6 linked regions of the Homo sapiens genome follow. The protein of the gene in region 1 purifies or fractionates together with the protein of each later gene. This does not show direct contact. Each region holds a gene or a part of one and is shown on either strand. Other genes may lie near its edges.

Region 1 (2,461 bases):
AGAGCAGCTTCCAAGGATCACCACTTTGGGGAGGTTTCTGGACTGGACTGTTTTGGAGACTTCCAGTGGCCCCTGTTGTTGGTGTGGATCAAGAAAGGGTGGTGGGAACTCTCCCCTCCCTCATTCCCTGAGGTAGAGTCAAGGGAAACCAACCACCCATCCACCCAACTGGACCAGTTTCCTCATTCTCCTTTTGGGCCATGGGGAATCTATGGCTCTCTGGGAGCTGCTTCTAGCCCAATGGCACTGAACAGGGGTCTAGGGATGGGGCACAGCTTCTTCGGGGAGTTTTAGGGCCCTGTGCTGACAGCTCATCACTAATCACTTGCCAATTCCCCAGGAGGAACGTGTCAGCAGGTGGGGTTTCTGCCAGAGTCCGAAGCAAGCGGGCAGCAGGAGAAGCAGTGGGGCTTGGGGAGGTAAGAGCCTCCCGCACCAGGCCATGACACACCTGGGAGACAGGTAAGGGAGAAGAGAAGAGAGCAGCAGTGGCTGAAAAGGCAGAGGAGTGGGAGGGGCCAGGTAGTGGGGACTTGGGGGGTGTGGAGGAGAGGGCTGAGAGGAGGTCATTCTAGGGGATCTTGGAGACAGACTGCTGGACAGGAAGACAGAGTAGGGGTAGGGATAAGGGAGTTCCAGGAAGCGGAGACCTTGGGCCAGATTCTTGTTGGAGGGGAGGGTGGTAGGCAGCATGGGAGAGGACAGAGGACAAGAGGGGACATGTCTGGGCACAAGGAAAGGCAAGCAATGGAGGCAGCAAGAGCCCTTGGCAGCAAGTTTCCATCACCTTTGCCTGCCAGTGTGTGAGAGGCGCAGAGGGGCAGTGAGCAGGTGACATGCAGCTTCCAGATACCCACACACTGCTTTTCTCCCGCCCAGCTCCCACCCCAGTTAATTGAGATGGGATTGTTTCTCTTTCTGGTTTCTTCCTAAGCCCCTCTCTCATATTCCTGGTGTGCTTATGGCCTGGCACACCTTGTGAAACAGAAACCCAAGCTCCTCATTTCGGAGCTGGGATTTCGATTGGCTATCTGCCTCCCTAACCAAGCTGTCCCTTCCACCTCATCCCTAGAGTCACCCTCTGGTCTCATCAACATCCAGTGGGCATTTCAGTGGCCCAGGATCCTTCAAATTGCAGATATAAAGCATCAGGACCCCACACCTGGGATGGAAGCTTCTAGGAATTAATGAAGCCCCAGTAGAGGTGAGGGTAAACCTAAAACGGGCTGGATAGGGCCTCTCCCAAGGCCCTATGGAAAGGTGATGGGAAACTGGGGGCTGAGGCCTCATCCTAGGAGACCCCTGGAGGGACCCACTTACCCTAGATAGGCAGCGGAGGCCAGAAACTGGAAAACAGCCACTCATTGTCGGTGCATTACCGTGAGCACCACCTGTAGGGACTCTGTTGGCCTCCAGCCGTCGTCACACGTTCCTGACAACCACAAAAGTTCATTTGAGGGTGCCCAGTCAGCTGACTTTGCTTCCACCAGGAATACCCACCTGGCCCTGGTCCTTCTGCTGAGCTACAGGAGGCATTCCCAGGGTCTTAGCAAAAACAACCCCTCAAATAGGCCCAGTGCCTACAACTCTAGAGAGGTTTCAGATGGTATTGGAGACCCAGAGAAGTTAACTGACTTTCCCAAAAGTCACCCACTGTAAATGGCAGACAGATCTCAAACCCACATCTGAGCCTGAGTCCAGTGTTTTTTCTCTAGTATCATCATTGTCCCTTAAATGTGTTTGACACATCATAGTTTACAAATCACCTTCACTCATATTCTCTCACTACTCATCAGTCATGAATTCAGCCAATGAGAAGGGCTCAGAGAGGTTAACTAACCAGCCACGCTGTTTACATGGGGCATAGACTGCTTCATGAACGCTTGACTGCAGCTTTGCCTTCCTCATGCCCTCAAAAAGGAAGGAGCTGACCAAAGCTTACTATACCATAGCTGGGGTCTGGGACCCCCAGCCAGGTCTCACAGATGATCTGGGAATGGCCTCCCTGTTGCTCTCAGGGGTCCGGCAGTCACACAGAAGAGTCAGGTTGAAATCTTGGCAAGACTTTGGTGTGGCTTTGGGAACTGGGTTTAACCTCTTGGGGACTTCACCAAGACAGTGGCAAAGGACACCACCTACAGCTTCCAGTGCCTCTCTACTCTCCCACCTGTGCTCCTGGGGTTGAATGAGACCAGAAGCAGCTGGGACAAGATTTGGAAAGATAAAGAGAGCCAGGAGACAAGACCTTGAGAGAAGCAGAGGTCTGGCTGGCTGCTGCCCTCTGGTGGTGACAATGGTGACACTGTAAACCCCTCTGTCAAGGTGACACTCTCCCCTGACTATTCAGGAGGGAGAAGCAATCGCCCCAGGACAGAGACGGGGACATCCCAGGAGCAGGGTACAGGCTCTAGCAATATCCATCTTGCGGTACTCCCTCCCTCACAACAACCAGACCACACAT
Region 2 (3,500 bases), on another chromosome or scaffold:
GCAGGACTGGCTTAGCTGATGGAGCAAACACAATACACTAATAACCAGTAGGAAAAAATCCTGTACTACAGACACTTCCAATGCAGAAGGAACAACTTGCATTCAGAGAACACGAACACAAATAGGACAAAGGCTCCTCTCTCCCCAGAACCAGGTCAGAGAACTAAAGCCATTTAATGTGTGTGTTTCACAACGGTGATACTGGAAGTCGGTTTGGCACTACATGGTCAGGCCACTTAAAAGCCTGAGCAATCTACAGATTTCATACTTTGACCTCCTTCATACTTACAGACATTTCCTTAATAATTCTACCTAACTGTCATTTTCCAACAGTCTCTTCACGTGAATAGTCACCGATCACTGCTGGGTGCAGTGGCTCATGCCTGTAATCCCAGCACTTTGGGAGGCCAAGGTAGGCCGATCACCTGAGGTGAGGGGTTCAAGACCAGTCTGGCCAAGATGGTGAAACCCTGTCTCTACTAAAAATGCAAAAATTAGTCGGGCACGGTGGCGCACACCTGTAATCTCAGCTAACCGGGAAGCTGAGAAAGGACAATTGCTTGAACCCAGGAGGCAGAGGTTGCAGTGAGCCGAGATCATGCCACTGTACTCCAGCCTGGGCGACAGAGCAAGACTCTGTCTCAAAAAAAAAAAAAAAAAAAAAAAAGATGCACTGATCACTCAGTAAGGAGGACTGCAAAAGATACTCCTCCAGCTTCCATCTTCAGAAAGGAATCACAAGTCTATTTTTGTTTTTTGAGACAGAGTCTCTGTCACCCAGGCTGGAGTGCAGTGGTGCGATCTCGGCTCACTGAAACCTCCACCCCCTGGGTTCAAGCGATTCTCCTGCCTCAGCCTCCCGAGTAGCTGGGATTATAGGTGCCTGCCACCATGCCCAGCCAGGAATCACAAGTATTAAACTTTCCTTTCAGTAGGAACACTTACTGTTCTTTTGTTGAGACGAGTCTCACTCTATTGCCCAGGCTGGAGTGCAGTGGCATGATCTCAGCTCACAGCAACCTCTGCCACCCGGATTCAAGTGATTCTTGTGCCTCAGCTTCCCTAGTAGCTGGGATTACAGGCAGCTGCCACGATTGGCTGATTTTTGTATTTTTAGTAGAGACAGGGTTTCACCATGTTGGCCAGGCTGGTCTCGAACTCCTGACCTCAAGTGATCTGCCCACCTCAGTCTCCCAAAGGGCTGGGATTACAGGCGTGAGCCACTGTGCCTGGCCAACACTTATTGTACTTTAATTTAATGAACTTTTTTTTTTTTTTTAAGAGACAAGGTCTTGCTATGTTGCCAGGCTGATCTCAAACTACTGGGCTCAAGTGATCCTCCTACCTCAGCCTCCCAAAGTGCTGGAATTATAGACATAAGCCATCATGCCTAGCTAATAAATATTTCTTGGCCGGGCACGGTGGCTCATGCCTGTAATCCCAGCATTTTGGGAGGCTGAGGCGGGTGGATCACGAGGTCAGGAGTTCAAGACCATCCTGGCCAACATGGTGAAACCCCATCTCTACTAAAAATACAAAAATTAGCCCGGCGTGGTGGCATGTGCCTGTAGTCCCAGCTACTAGGGAGGCTGAGGCAGGAGAATAGCTTGAACCCGGGAGGCAGAGGTTGCAGTGAGCCGAGATCACACCACTGCACTCCAGCCTGGGTGACAGAGCGAGACTCCATCTCAAGGAAAAAAAAAAAATTCTTGAACACCTACTTATTATGTGTACACTAAGTATATACTAGTGAATAAAGAATATAGGATCTGTCATCATAATACTTTCTCAGGAATTAGAAACTATTCCCTTACTTCTGCTAGAAGTTCGTAGAAGTTTTATGGCTGGGCGCGGCAGCTCACGCCTGTAATCCCAGCACTGTGGGAGGTGGAGGCGGGCGGATCACGAGGTCAGGAGATCGAGACCATCCTGGCTAACACGGTGAAACCCTGTCTCTACTAAAAATACAAAAAATTAGCGGGGCGAGGTGGTGGGCGCCTACAGTCCCAGCTACTCAGGAGGCTGAGGCAGGAGAATGGCGTGAACCCCAGAGGCGGATCTTGCAGTGAGCCGGGATCGAGCCACCGCACTCTAGCCTAGGCGACAGAGCGAAACTGTCTCAAAAAAAAAAAAAAAAAAAAAAAAAAAAAAGAAGTTCTTACAAGTTTTAACTCCCTGACACTTTAGGGATTTACAAGAAACTTTTCCAGATCCCATCCTACTTTGCAGAATTGTAATCTGAAGGTAGGATCCAGGAAACTGCAACATAAGCAAGCATTACAGGTGACAATGCCCACTGTGAGTTTACAGACCTTTTAAAATAGCATCATGTTAAAAGAAATACAGAGGGCTGGGTGCAGTGGCTCACGCCTGTAATCTCAGCACTTTGGGAAGCTGAGACTGGTGGATTGCTTGAGCCCAGGAGTTCGAAACCAGCCTGGACAACATGGCAAAACACTGTCTCCAAAAAAACTACAAAAAAATTAGCCAGGCGTGGCTGTGCGTGCCTGTGGTCCCAGCTACTCGGGGGGATTGCTTGGGCCCATGAGGTTGAGGCTGTAGTAATAGCAAGCCATGTTCGCACCACTGCACTCCAGCCCCACCCCCCAAAAAAAACCCAAAACAGAGAACTAAGGAACTTGTGCAGTTGAAGCACAGTTGAAGCCAGAACTGAAAGATAATCAGATGCTAAGAAAGATCTATTGCTACAGTTGCCTCATTACGGTTTTAAATTTCACATCCTACTCTGTTGCATAAAGTATTGACACAGGGCAGAAAGAATCATTGTGTGGCTTTATTGAAATCCACCAAGTCTGGTTTCCCTTCTGCTGCCCCTTGGATTTTAAGTCAGGAATGCCAACTCTATCGCTGCTACCTACCATACTATTCTTGCTGCCTCCCCATGCATTCATTCACCTGCTACCAACCTAAAGGCCACTGGGAAGACCAAATGCAGTCATCTCACCACTAACACCCCATAAGGCTTCCCCTGCCATTCTAGTATCAAGGAATCACCGTTACTTTGGGTAGGCTGATAGTCAAAGTGAGGGCACAGAGATATGAGCCCTTACCTTTAAAAAATTTGGGCTTTAAAACCTAACTAAATATTTTGCAGGACAAAACCAACTCGGTTTTGTTGAACCCAATTTCTGAGTAGGACTTATACAGGTGATGTTGTACAGTGGTATAAGTCCAATGTAAAGAAACCATTGGTTCCTTTGCATTTAAGTGTCTTGAAAAAGTCTAGAAGTAATCTAGAAACATCTTTGAATTGATTTACTCAGTTTCAAACATACTAGCTTGGAGAAGCAATTTTCAGTGGCTCAAGAGACAGTTCCCTTTAGCTAGGGTTGGTTAAGCATGTTGACTTCAAAAGTCCAGAAGTGAACTGCAGCCCTACTTCAATTCCTAGCCCAAATCCAAACCCAGATCATCTGTGAAAAGACATTTTTGATGTCACAAAACTGAGTCACCCACAGATAATACTAAGGCCATTGCTT
Region 3 (3,500 bases), on another chromosome or scaffold:
TCAAGTGATCCTCCTGCCTCAGCCTCCCAAGTAGCTGGGACCACAAGTGCATTCCACCATGCCTTGCTAATTTTCTTTTCTTTTTTTTTTTTTTTTGTAGAGACAGGGTCTCCCCATTTTGCCCAGGCTGGTCTGGAACTCCTGGGCTCAAGTGATTCTCCCACCTTGGCCTCCCAAAATGCTAGGATTACAGACATAAGCCTGGCCTTAAATGCATTTCTGACTTATGACAGGCTTATTGGGATGTAACCCCATCATAATTGCATCTGTATTAAGAAAAGTGGGCGGGGCACGGTGGCTCACGCCTGTAATCCCAGCACTTTGGGAGGCCCAGGCGGGCGGATCACGAGGTCAGGAGATCGAGACCATCCTGGCTAACACGGTGAAACCCCGTCTCTACTAAAAATACAAAAAAATTAGCCGGGCGGATCACGAGGTCAGGAGATCGAGACCATCCTGGCTAACACGGTGAAACCCCGTCTCTAATAAAAATACAAAAAAATTAGCCGGGCGTGGCAGCGGGTGCCTGTAGTCTCAGCTGCTGGGGAGGCTGAGGCAGAAGAATGGTGTGAACCCAGAAGGCAGAGCTTGCAGTGAGCGGAGATGGCGCCACTGCACTCCAGCCTGGGTGAGAGAGCAAGACTCTGTCTCAAAAAAAAAAAAAAAAAAAAAGAAAAGTGAATGAATCACTCTAAAACCTACTAAGATTAAGGTAAAAGCTGTGGGTTAAACAAAAAAAAAAAATGACCTTATTTTTGACATGGATGAAATATACATTCCCATCTTCACAATTGAGACAATGTACTATGAATCTACAATGAGCCAAGCTATTTTAGGTGGTGAGGACTGAGACATAGTCCTTGCCTTCAAAAGCTTGCAAGGGGTGCTTGTAACCAAACCTGTAAACCAAGTATGGAATACGGCCACAAAATGTAAAACACATAGGACACTGCTATGCTAAAAGCCCCAAGGAGAGTAAATTCTGTCTGAGGGACTGGAGAAGGTAGTCCTCTGACTGTGCACGGGGATCACCTGATTCTGAATACAACCTTCCCCTTCCTCAGAATCTACCCTTTCCACTCCATTCCCATGGCTCTGGGACATTCTTGGCTCTCACCAATGACATTCCCATTTACAGTTTATCTCCCTGTTCTTAGGTGTTCACTTTCCTAAACCATCTCTGTATAATGATGTTATGCACGGTTAGAAGAGAGATCACAAACTGCCAATTAAAGACCAAATATGGGACCTAGTAATGTTTTACTTCACCCAGTGAAACGTTTTTAAATTGGGCACTTGTGCCTAAAAGCTGAAACCTGTAGTTTCTCTTGAAAAATGAGAAACGATAGCACTGTATTAGCAAAATAATTACTGGCTGGAGCTGAGGAGCCCCTGGCCCCTCCAGTTATGGCATCTGATTTTAAATTTCCTACAGTTTCCATCGTCCAGCTTCATTCACTTTGAGGCCTGGATCCCAAAGATATTGAGTGCATGAACAGGGCTAGATGTGGAGCCATCTTAGCCAAACCCCTCCATCCTCCTTGTTGCCTGGAGAATCAAGTGTTGACTTCTTACAGTATCAACCAGGGTGCTTCACGATCTGCTCCACCTTCTCAGCTTGGCTGTCTCCCACAGTCCTCCTCACATTCGTGTTTTCATCACGAAAACAACTTGGGGCTTTCTACACAAGTTCTGCATAATGCACGTCCCACGCCTATGCCCTCACTCAGATCTCTCCCCAGTTTCCTTGTCCGTTTCATTTCCTTTGCAAAAAAAAAAGCCCTTTCCCCTCTTTAATGCACAGCTCACATGCCGCAGTCCTCATTACATCTTCTCTAACTCCCCACTAGAATCAACAGCTCTCCCTTTAGTCATCATTTATTCCATTCTGTCTTATATTAAATATCATGTGTGGCCAGGCGCGGTGGCTCACGTCTATAATCCTAGCACTTTGGGAGGCTGAGGTGGATGGATCCATTGAGGTCAGGAGTTTGAGACCAGCCTGGCCAATGTGGTGAAACCCAGTCTCTACTAAAAATACAGAAATTAGCCAGTCATGGTGGTGGGTGCCTGTGATCCCAGCTCAGGGGAGCCTGAGGCAGGAGAATCGCTTGAACCCAGGAGGCGGAGGTTGCAGTGAGCTGAGATTGTGCCACTGCACTCCGGCCTGGGCCACAGAGCAAGATTCTCTCAAAACAACAACAAGAACAACAACAACAACAACAACAACAAGAACAAGAAAGTCATGTGTGTATCTTTCTCATCAGATTATAACCACCCTGAGGGTAGTCATTAACACAGTCTGGCATCTTTGTCTACTACAGACTCTCAAATTGTGTATTGAAATGCATGCATTAAAAAAAATCTTCATAACCAGAGAATATGAAAATATTTTTAAAAACATTGAAAATATTAAGTAAAAAAGCTTAGTATAATTCTAAGTGACAAAACCAAAACCAGTCCTGCACATACATATATAACAGTATGTCACAACTACAGATAACAATGGGTGGCTGGGCGCAGTGGTTCACGCCTGTAATCCCAGTACTTTGGGAGGCCGAAGTGCTAAGGTCGGGAGTTCGAGACCAGCCTGACCAACATGGAGAAACCCCGTCTCTACTAAAAATACAAAATTAGCTGGGCGTGGTAGCACATGCCTGTAATCCCAGCTACTTGGGAGGCTGAAGCAGAAGAATCACTTGAACCCAGGAAGCAGAGGTTGCAGTGAGCCAAGATTGTGCCATTGCACTCCAGCCTGGGCAACAAGAGCAAAACTCTGTCTCAAAAACAAAAACACAAAAAACAAAAAAACCACACACACAAACAAAAAACAAATAAAGAAAAAACAAACAAACAATGGGTAAGGGAAAAAAAAAGCTGAGTTAGAATAGCTAGAGTTATGGTTAATTTTTTCCCTTTCACAAACTTTCTGAAATATACTTACATGTTAATATCATGCTGCAAAAAAATATAACTTAAAAAGTACTCAAATTTTTGGTAGGTCTAGCATGAACCTATTATACCATAAAGAACTACCCTGAGCTGGGTGCGGTGGCTCACAGCTGTAATCCCAGCACTTTGGAAGGCTGAGGTGGGAGGATGACTTGAGCCCAGGAGTTTGAGACTGGCCTGGACAACACAGTGAGACCTTGTCTTTATAAAAAATCAAAAGGAAAAAACAAAACAAAACAAAACAAAAAACAAAAAAAACTATCCTGAACCAGACTCTTAGTATTTACTTTAATCTTCATGGGACAGAGAGACAGAAAAAATAGTTGTCACATGATGACTAGGGGAGGTACATATCAAGTTTCTTAGAGATAGCAGATTTAGCTTTTCTACCCAAGAGCTGCTCAGAGATGTGACCTCTCAACTAAGCAGCTCATATAACAAATATACGATAAACTCATATAACAAATCACACCTTCCACAGGCATCATGGTTTTATGAACTCATAGAGTAGGGGTTGGCATTCTTTCTGTAAATGGCCAAACAGTAAT
Region 4 (3,500 bases), on another chromosome or scaffold:
TACAAAATTAGCCAGGCGCATGCCTGTAGTCCCAGCTACTCGGGAGGCTGAGGCAGGGGAATTGCTTGAACCCGGGAGGCAGAGGTTGTAGTGAGCCAAGATCGCGCCACTGCACTCCAGCCTGGCAACAGAGCAACACTCCATCTCAAAAAACAAACAAACAAACAAAAAGACAGGATTTTAGAGGAAACCGCTGTTCCACCCTGAAGGCAGGCTGGCAGGGCTGGTAGCCTGGGTCCCTGCAGTCATCCTAAGCTGCTGCACTCACCTGATCCACCAGCAGCTGAGCCAGGCCAGGCTCGCTTGCGCGCAGCTGATTCAGCTTCTTGATGAGCGCGTGCCTGCAACACAGAACCCACCAGAAAAAGCAGCTCAGTACCACGTGCTGTGACCCTCCCTTCATGTTTTGGGATTATCAGGATATTTAAAGAAGCACAGTAAGACTGTCTGTAGTTTTTTAAATAAGGTATGTTAATGATCATTTATAGATAATATCATTATATACCCAGAAAACCCAAGAGAATCAGGAGTGTCAGTATTAGAAAATGCTGTAAGGTAGCCAAACTCCAAGATTAATATACACTAAAGGGACAAAAGGAGCTTAGTACGTGAAGACATGCCTTGGTTCCTAGATAAATAATAAAAGAGAAGGGAGTAAGACCCACATGTTGAAACATATTATAGGGCTCTAGTAAATAAAACAGTTTAGGTCTGGAAAGGGGGAAGGCAAACAACTCCATGTAACGAGGGTGGACACTGAGTGTCTGATGAGGACAGTATTTCACAGAAGAGGGAGGAGACAGATCACTCCATCCAGCAGCACTGGGATGACTGGGAGCCATGCAGAAAACCATTTAGACCAGAGTAAATTCCAGAGGGATCAAAGATGACAAGCACAATTCTAGGGAAGAAATGTTTCATCATCTCAGAAGGGGAAAGCCTTTCCAAGCAAAACCACAAACCAAAAAGTAAAGAATGATTGACATATTTGACGTCAGAACAATATTTTTTTCTGCATAGGAAAAAGCATCATGTAGTATTTAACCTTAACATGAATATTATAATTTTTCACTTAGAAGTCTGATAAAACCGAGGGCTCTGGGGAACTGTAAATTTGTACAACCTCTCCAGAGGACAACTGGAGTCGGGAAAACCACATGTGGATGATATGCTGAGACTCAGCCATTCCATTTCCTAACTGCATCCCTTTAAACACTTTTTTTTTTAGATAGATAGATAGATAGATAGATAGATAGACTCTCACTCCTTCACCCAAGCTAGAGTGAAATGGCATGATCTTGGCTCACCGCAGCCTCCTGGTTTCAAGAGGTTCTCTTGCCTCAGCCTCCCAAGTAACTGGGATTACAGGCACCCACCACCACCCCCAGCTAGTTTTTGTATTTTTAGTAGAGATGAGGTCTCGAACTCCTGACCTCAAGTGATCCACCCGCCTAGGCCTCCCAAAATGTTGGGATTACAGGCGTGAGGCACCGCACCCAACCTAACAGAGGAAACACTTCAAATGCACATCCTCACATTTCTAGTCTACGTAGCTGGAAAAAAAGGACATTCTTAATATGCTAATGTGGAGGTCACCTAGTTACCCTAAGGGAGAAAAGCAAGGCAAGGACCCACTGCACAGCAAGTTCCCCCTTGGAAGCCCACGGGCGCAGCTGCCCACAAATGCACATAATCTCTGCAGAAATACAAAAGCCCTAATGCTGGCTGCACTGGGGACACAGGTAGGAGGAAATTTTCCCCTGTAAGCAGTTTTGAATTCTGAACTATGTGGACAGAACACCAAATTTTAAAACAAATGAAAGTGAAGCTGGCTGGGCACAGTGGCTCTCGCCTGTAATCCCACCACTTTGGGAGGCCAAGGCTGCAGTGAGCTCTGATGGCGCCACTGGTACACTCCAGCCTAGGTGACAGAGCAAGACCCTGTCTCCAAAAGTGAAGTGGCAACAGACAGAAACGAGCACTTCTGCAGCTATCTCACAAAACTAGTTTGCCACCAAAACTAGTTAAAGTGACCTGGTGTCCGCCTCACTGAGCTGCTCCAGCAGAGGCACAGGCATTCTGCATACTGGCGCTGCTGTGCACTGACAGCCATAAGCCAAGTCAGCCTTTCCCCAGGAGTGCCATGGCTAGGAAGATGCATCTCCCTCGCCTCCAGTATAATTTTAAAAGTTATGGTTGTAAAATGACAAAAGAAAAAAACTAGACATGTACTAAAGAACAAAACAAAAACTGGCTGGGGGTGGTAGCCCACACTTGTAATCCCAGCACTTCGGGAGGCTAAGGCAGGTGGATTGTTTGAGGCCAGGAGGTAGAAGTTGCAGTGAGCTGAGATTGCCCCACTGCACTCCAACCTGGGGGACAGAGTGAGACCCTGTCTCAAAAATTAAAATACTACTTAGGCTACATTGTGGGGGGGGTGGTAAGTCTATGGATTTTGATTTCCTTTTTGCTGTTTTCTATTTTTGGTAACATGTTTATGTAACTTCATTTTTTAAAAAATTGCTACATTCAAAATTTCCCCCAAAAAAGAAACTTCATATACAAGTTAGTTCATATACAAGTTAGAAAATGAAATTTTAAAATACCCCATAAGACACATCAAAGAATAATTCTTTAAAAATGGTACCAGAACCCTACAGAGAATGTAAGGTACCAAAGGATGTTAAAGACCTAAATAGATCACATTCATGGGTGCAAAGAAGTGATACTGTAAAAAGAAAGAAACTCAAAAGATACCTAAAGGCAGGTGAAAAGACATTTACAACAGATAAAGGGCATATAAAGAACAACAGGAAGAAACGAGGGAAATCTTACGGCTCAGCCACTGTCAGGGCTGGGGGGTTCTCGGTGCACCCTGGAAGCAGCTCCCACCACCGGGGCCACAGAGAAACCCACACAAGCCCCAGACACGTGGACAAGAATACTCAGAGCAGCCTGGCTCTCCACAACTTCTGACCAAGAACCACCGGAGGCCCAGCAGAGCAGAACGGAGCAGTCTGCTGTGCCGAGGTGGGTTTCTGCAGCGGACATTATTCGGCTATGAAAATGAACTTGTGGCAGCCCCTCTGCATGGGCAACCCTCATGCCAAGTGAGCAACGTGAGACTTCAGCAAACACCAAGATCCACGTACAAAGCTCAAAACAGGCAAAACTGAGCATGTCCAGGACACGCACAGGTGGCAAAGCCATAAAGCAAAACGAGGACATGGTCACAGGCTGGGATGTGGCTAACCTCCCAGGTGACACCTGGGGATGGTAAGGGGCTGGCCAGGTTCCATTTCACATGGGTGCAGCCTAAACTGCATACAGCTCCTTATAGTTACCCACATGTCCACAGGCCTCACGCACTTTTCTTCTGTGTCACATTCCACAACAAAAGAACACCACACACAGGATTCTGGGGAATCCCACAGGCTGGAAGAGCCAGGAGCGTGGCCTCACCTGGGGTTGATCTCCAGCGTGGGCTGCAGGAGCTGTGC
Region 5 (2,561 bases), on another chromosome or scaffold:
GAGAATCATGTGAGCCCAGGAGGTGGAGGTTGCAGTGAGCTGAGATCGTGCCACTGCACTGCAGCCTGGGCGACAGAGAGAGACTCCATCTCAAAAAATAAAAACTAAATTATCAGGCCCAGAGAGGCAATAGAATGAAATCATAGTCAGGTCACTCTCTCCCAAGCTACATAATTACCTCTTGAAGCCAAGTATCTATCAAATGCCATATACCCTGTAGTTCAACAGCATATAGCCAATCACTAACCAAGGTTAGTTCTGTAAGCCAATGAGAATTCCTGATAAACAACTTTTGTAATCACCCCTTCACCTTGTGTCAGTAGAGGGTATAAGAGCAGCTGATCTATCCTTTTTTCTTTAAGAAGTGTTCTCTGGAGCACTCTCCAGGGCAACCTGGAAGTGTGTCCCGAGCTGCAGTCCCCAACCTTGGCCCACCTAAACATTCTATATTAATTTTGCCTCAGCTTCTTCCTTTTAAGGTGAATAATCATCACAAAACAGACATTTGAAATATAAGCTTTATTTTAAATTTAAAGAAGTATTGAAAATAAACATTTTTTACAAATTATAATCAAGCACTCAAAACAATTTAGGAATGTTAAACACTAATTCTTAATTCAAAATAATGACATCCATAGAATACAACCCTGGTGTTGGCCAATATGAAGTTTACTTAATATTAGTATTTTATATACACTTAACCATTAATCCTTCCTAAAATTCAATAACAATGATTTCACTTTATAAGATGAAGCCTTTTATGCAATACCCAGAGATAACTTTTTCAAATATGAAACACTTATACCAGTGAGGAAATTATAAAAACATATATCAATTATACTGAAGGACTTGATTTAGAGGCTGTCTGTATATAGATGCATTTCACCTTAGGAAGTACACATGCACATCAAAACACTTCAACTGAATATAGATGCCATTACATTATTTAGTTACGTTACAAAGCAAACGGCAGGTTCATAAACGTTGTTCTATTATGTATCAACTGAAAAAAATATATTCAAAAAAAAAGTTTTTGAAGACTCATGGGAGTGGAATGTGCCCACATTAGGAATAAAGCTTTTACAGGACCACCTGTCTCCAGCTGGCTCCCAGGGACCACTGAAAACAGCTGGCTACCCTCAGAAAGACAAGATGGTCTTGTTAATAATTTCAATGGACTCTCGAAGCTCATCCTCCTTGATCACCAGCGGAGGCGCAAACCTGATAATGTCGCCATGGGTTGGCTTGGCCAGAAGTCCATTATCTCGAAGTCGTAGACACACCTTCCAAGCATCCCAATCTAAAGAAAAATAGTAAAACGTACATGCTCAAAGATAAACGTTTAAACATCCCTTGCCGTATGTATGGGCAAAGTGCAGCCTGGCAAAACAAAATTAACAGAACTTGCTCAACTAAGGGAAGCTTGGGCTGGGAGCGGTGGCTTATGCCTGTAATCCCAGCACTTTGGGAGGCCGAGGTGGGTGGATCACGAGGTCAAGAGATTGAAACCATCCTGGCCAACATTATGAAACCCGTCTCTACTAAAAATACAAAAATTAGCTGGGCATCATGGTGCGCACCTGTAGTCCCAGCTACTCGGGAGACTGAGGCAGGAGAATCGCTTGAACCAGGAGGCGGAGGCTGCAGTGAGCGGAGATCGCGCCACTGCACTCCAGCCTGGTGACAGAGCAAGACACCGTCTCAAAAAAAAAAGAAAGGGAAGCTTGGAGCTGCAAGCTTGCTTTGTTTTTACTCCTAAAAATGAAGTTACTCTTCACTTTTCAGCAAGCACATAACTAGGTTTGAATGATATGATTAGACATATCATAGTTTTTCATAAATGAAAAAGACCAAGCCAAAAAAAAAAAAAAAAATGTGCTAAGGCTGCTGTATTAATCACACAAGGAACTAATGCAAAAGAACTTGGGTATAGGCTGGATGCAGTGGCTCACACCTGTAATCCCAGCACTTTGGGAGGCCGAGGTGGGCAGATCATGAGGTCAAGAGATCGAGACCATCCTGGCCAACATGGTGAAACCCCATCTCTAATAAAAATACAAAAATTAGCCTGTCGTGGTGTGGCACATGCCTGTAGTCCCAGCTACTCAGGAGGCTGAGGCAGGAGAATCGCTTGAACCCAGGAAGTGGAGGTCGCAGTGAGCCAAGATCATGCCACTGTACTCCAGCCTGGCGACAGACACTCCAGCCCAACAGAGCAAGGCACTGTCTCAAAAAATAAAATAAATAAAATAAATAAAATTCTAAAAAAGAAAAAAAAGAACTTGGGTATGATACAGATGATTAACTGACATAAAATGGGCAATACTCAAAACCCAGTGAACACTACACATTCCAAAAAGGGACTCGCTTCCTGAGCTCAACATATTATAGCAGCGATTCTCAACCTGGCTGCACATCAGAATCACCTTAAAGGCTATTGCTAATGCCTGTGCCCCGTCCCAGATCCGTCAAATCAGAATCCCTGGGGTAAGGCCAGGCTTTGACTCATTTTTTTAAGAAGCTCCCCAGGTGATTCTTTTTTTTTTTTTTTTTTTTTTTTT
Region 6 (3,500 bases), on another chromosome or scaffold:
CACAGTGCCTGCATCACACCCTGCACTGCACCCCTGCACCCTGGGCTTCACAGTCAGAGCCCTCCTCACACCACTGCTGAGCTCAGGCAAGTGCACAAGGAAAGCTGTGGCTCACTGCTCGGCTCCAGCAGAGGTGGTCCCATGGACCACCTGTTGCTACAGAGGGGTCGGCAGCCCTGTCACTCAAGGCAGGGTTTGCTCTGCAAGCTGCCCCAGCCTGGCGCCTCCTCTACGCCACCCCCCCAGCTCCTCCTGCAGCTCCTGTTGCTCCTTTCCAGGCCTACCCGGTCATACCTCATGCCTCACCCTGCCCTTGGCCTTTACAGATGGTGGCTGCAGTTCAGAGAAAGGTCATCACTGAGAATAACTCACAACCTCAACTCTGTGAGCGTGGCAAGGGGGACTCGGGTTACCCCACAGTGGGTGTTGCAGGCAGGCACCCAAGGGAGTGTCATGTGGCCCTGCAAGCTCAGCCCGCCCTCAGGTGGAAGTGGAGCCCTCATCCTGCCTGGGTTGCTCTTGCCCTCCAAGCCTCTCTGAGGGCCTCTCTACCTTTCCCCAAGCTAGGTATGCAGCAGGTACTCAATAAACACTGACCTGACCTCATGGGCCTCTCAACAGCCATGACTTGGCAAAGGACACTTAATTCACCCAGTGCAGAAGTGCTTGTACTTACATCCCAGAACTCGAACATGTTTTGAGGGTCAATTCCAAACTCCTTCACTTTGGTCTACAAAAAAAAAAACAAAGGGAGAGAAATGCAAAGAAGCATTTGCTAGCGGGATGGGAACAGGAGCTCCGGGAGGCAGGGAGCTGTGCTCCGTGAGCTGAGCCTCACCTTCCCCAGAGCCAGGGATGGGGCAGGGCTGGAGCAGCCTGTGAGTCGAGGGCAGGGCCCAGGATCTGCCCACCCCAAGCTGGACACCAGATCAGTCCATGACCAGCACGCCAGTGACGTTGTGCCTGCAAAGCCCCCTGCTGAGGGCAGCTGTAACCCCGTGTGAGGACCTGGCCCACACACTGCTCTGCAACAGCTCTCACCCAGGCCTGCCTGGGACACCAGAGCATGATACCCCTGGACATCTGGGAACCGAACCTAGGACTGGGACCCAAGTGTGGGCAGGGGCCACCTACCAGGCCAGGCAAACAAACACAGGCTGAACAGCCACCCAGCCCTTCCCATGTGTGGGAGGGTGACTGCACCAGGAAGCTCTGAGGAGCCATCAGGTATTCTGGTCCCCAGGGCAGACAGGGCCAGCAATTCCTTACCTATTCCACATAGGAGGAGAAGCCCTACTGACCAGTCAGTTGCAGGCAGGCAACAGTGCTATGGTTAGCCAGCCTTATGGCGTCCTGCTGCAGCTGGGTAGGCACTGGAGGCAGAGATGTGGGGATGATGGTGGAGGGGGTGGGAGGGAGATGTGGGTGTAGTCCCCAGCTCTGACACAGCACAGTGCCCACTGGCTGACTGCTGCTGTCACTCCTGGAGCATCCCTCACTCTGTCATGCCCTGCTGAGCCTGCACAACCTCGAGGCCAGGCAGACTGTGAGAACTTGGAGACAGGAGACCCAGGTTCTAATCCTGGCATCACCTACTCATACAGTCACTAAGTGGGCCGGGTACAGTGGCTCATGCCTATAATCCCAACACTTTGGTAGGCCGAGGTGGGCAGATCACTTGAGGTCAAGAATTCGAGACCAGCCTGGCCACCATGGAGAAAACCTGTCTCTACCAAAAATACAAAAATTACCTGGACGTGGTAGTGGGCGCCTGTAATCCCAGAATCAGCAGGCTGAGGCATAAAAATTACTTGAACCCAGAAGGCAGAGGTTGCAGTGAGCCAAGATCGTACCACTGCACTCTAGCCTGAGTGACAGAGTGACCTTGTCTCAAAAAATAAGCTGGACATGGTGGCACACACCTGTAATCCCAGCACTTTGGGAGGCTGAGGTGGGCAGATCACTTAAGGTCAGGAGTCAGAGACCAGCCTGGCCAACGTGGTGAAACCCCGTCTCTACTAAAAATACGAAAATAGCTGGGCATGGTGGCGTGCACCTGTAATCCCAGCTACTCGGGAGGCTAAGGCAGGAGAATCGCTTGAACCTGGAAGGCAGAGGTTGCAGTGAGCCAAGATCACGCCACTGCACTCCAGCCTGGGCAACAGAGTGAGACTGTCTTAAAAAAAAAAAAAAAAAAAAAAAAAACAAAACCACACACACTAAGTAGGGGGCAAAATGTCACCTCCCTTCATTGGGGCTTTATGTCCTTAAGTGAAAAATGGAATGCATCCTCTACCCCTACCTAGCATGTCACATTTGGGGAGATGCTGGGCACAAAGGCCTAGGAAGGTCATGTGTATGAAGGGTTCTGTGTATCAGTCAGGCCTGGGAGACGGAAGAAGGGGTTATCGTGATCCCACTGACTCCAAGCCTCCCTCCTCAAAGCTGCAGAGGTTGAATGGGTAAATGCGGAAAAGGCAAGGAAGGCTTGCAGCCCACAGGCAACCAAACCTTCCATACCATCAGCCAAGCCAAGATCCACCAGACCTACGAACCGCGTCTCTGAGAGGCCATGACCTGGACATGCTGGGCACTCCCAGGAAGGCAGTACAGGGGACCACGGGGGCACTTACTGTGTTAGTAGACAGGGCAACAAAGTGCTTCGCCACTGCAGAAGGCTACAAGAGACAGAGCCAAGTTACCACAGCCAGCCCAGGGAGACAAAGGGTAGTCACTTCCCATCACTAGAGGAACCAAGGCCCTGCATGGGACTGAGATTCCCAGTCCTTGGTTCTGAGACTGTTGGAGAAGGCCCACATCGAGGTCAAGGTCAAGAAAGCAGACGGGTCACAGGCCGCCTGCTCATCCCATCTTACAAGCATACGGGGCTCAGGGACGTCCCTCCCCTATAAAATAGGTGTGGCCAAGAGTTCCTGCAGCGCCAAGGGCCTGCAGAGAAAGGGCCATGCAAGGGCTGTCAGCCAGCGAGAGCAGGTTCTGTCACATCTGCAAGGCTGGGTCTGACAAAGCCAAGATGAACAATCATCTCATCTAGCAAAGGCAGGCACCGGCAAGGCCGCCTTCACTTCCAACTTCAGGAGAAACACGGCCAGACTTGGTCACTCAGGGGCCCACCCTGCTCTTCCCAGCCCAGAGGCTAACCACGAGGAAGGCCCTATAGCCCACTCACATCCTTGGCCGCCTGGAGAAACCACTCCTTCGCCGTCTCTGCATTCGTGATGGTCTCCTGGGTAGTAAAGGTCTGCAACCAAAGAGAACAGCAGTGGGCGCCCGAGCTTAGGGGTGGGTGCAGGCCTTGAGCCAGGGTTCAGCAGTAGAGGCCAAGGCAATGCCCAGCTGTCCCATGGAGCAGTATTTGCAGGTCAGTGACAGTGACGCCACATAACCTCCTGAGATTCCAGCTCTTTAAAACCAGAGGAGGGGGGACGGTAAACACACCCCCCAACCCTAAGCCTGCAGGTCAAAGGCCGCAGCTTCTC

What was found.
Region 2: the proteins of PHOSPHO1 (region 1) and CS purify together in Homo sapiens (affinity purification with mass spectrometry; one large-scale study listed by BioGRID and IntAct). This does not show direct contact.
Region 3: the proteins of PHOSPHO1 (region 1) and GOT2 purify together in Homo sapiens (affinity purification with mass spectrometry; one large-scale study listed by BioGRID and IntAct). This does not show direct contact.
Region 4: the proteins of PHOSPHO1 (region 1) and TRAP1 purify together in Homo sapiens (affinity purification with mass spectrometry; one large-scale study listed by BioGRID and IntAct). This does not show direct contact.
Region 5: the proteins of PHOSPHO1 (region 1) and OAT purify together in Homo sapiens (affinity purification with mass spectrometry; one large-scale study listed by BioGRID and IntAct). This does not show direct contact.
Region 6: the proteins of PHOSPHO1 (region 1) and GPI purify together in Homo sapiens (affinity purification with mass spectrometry; one large-scale study listed by BioGRID and IntAct). This does not show direct contact.

The regions. Positions count from the first base shown.
Region 1 is NC_000017.11:49,225,327-49,227,787, forward strand, and holds part of PHOSPHO1 (phosphoethanolamine/phosphocholine phosphatase), read right to left. Parts: intron 1,433-2,461; 5' UTR 1,366-1,432; coding exon 1,321-1,365; intron 452-1,320; coding exon of another isoform or gene 330-451; intron 1-329. UniProt on the Homo sapiens protein: Phosphatase that has a high activity toward phosphoethanolamine (PEA) and phosphocholine (PCho). Involved in the generation of inorganic phosphate for bone mineralization.
Region 2 is NC_000012.12:56,293,831-56,297,330, forward strand, and holds part of CS (citrate synthase, mitochondrial precursor), read right to left. Parts: intron 1-3,500. UniProt on the Homo sapiens protein: Key enzyme of the Krebs tricarboxylic acid cycle which catalyzes the synthesis of citrate from acetyl coenzyme A and oxaloacetate.
Region 3 is NC_000016.10:58,710,317-58,713,816, forward strand, and holds part of GOT2 (aspartate aminotransferase, mitochondrial isoform 1 precursor), read right to left. Parts: intron 1-3,500. UniProt on the Homo sapiens protein: Catalyzes the irreversible transamination of the L-tryptophan metabolite L-kynurenine to form kynurenic acid (KA). As a member of the malate-aspartate shuttle, it has a key role in the intracellular NAD(H) redox balance.
Region 4 is NC_000016.10:3,658,525-3,662,024, forward strand, and holds part of TRAP1 (heat shock protein 75 kDa, mitochondrial isoform 1 precursor), read right to left. Parts: coding exon 3,463-3,500; intron 342-3,462; coding exon 269-341; intron 1-268.
Region 5 is NC_000010.11:124,396,803-124,399,363, forward strand, and holds the end of OAT (ornithine aminotransferase, mitochondrial isoform 1 precursor), read right to left. Parts: intron 1,301-2,561; coding exon 1,140-1,300; 3' UTR 501-1,139; downstream 1-500. UniProt on the Homo sapiens protein: Catalyzes the reversible interconversion of L-ornithine and 2-oxoglutarate to L-glutamate semialdehyde and L-glutamate.
Region 6 is NC_000019.10:34,378,696-34,382,195, reverse strand, and holds part of GPI (glucose-6-phosphate isomerase), read right to left. Parts: intron 3,263-3,500; coding exon 3,191-3,262; intron 2,679-3,190; coding exon 2,634-2,678; intron 731-2,633; coding exon 677-730; intron 1-676. UniProt on the Homo sapiens protein: In the cytoplasm, catalyzes the conversion of glucose-6-phosphate to fructose-6-phosphate, the second step in glycolysis, and the reverse reaction during gluconeogenesis.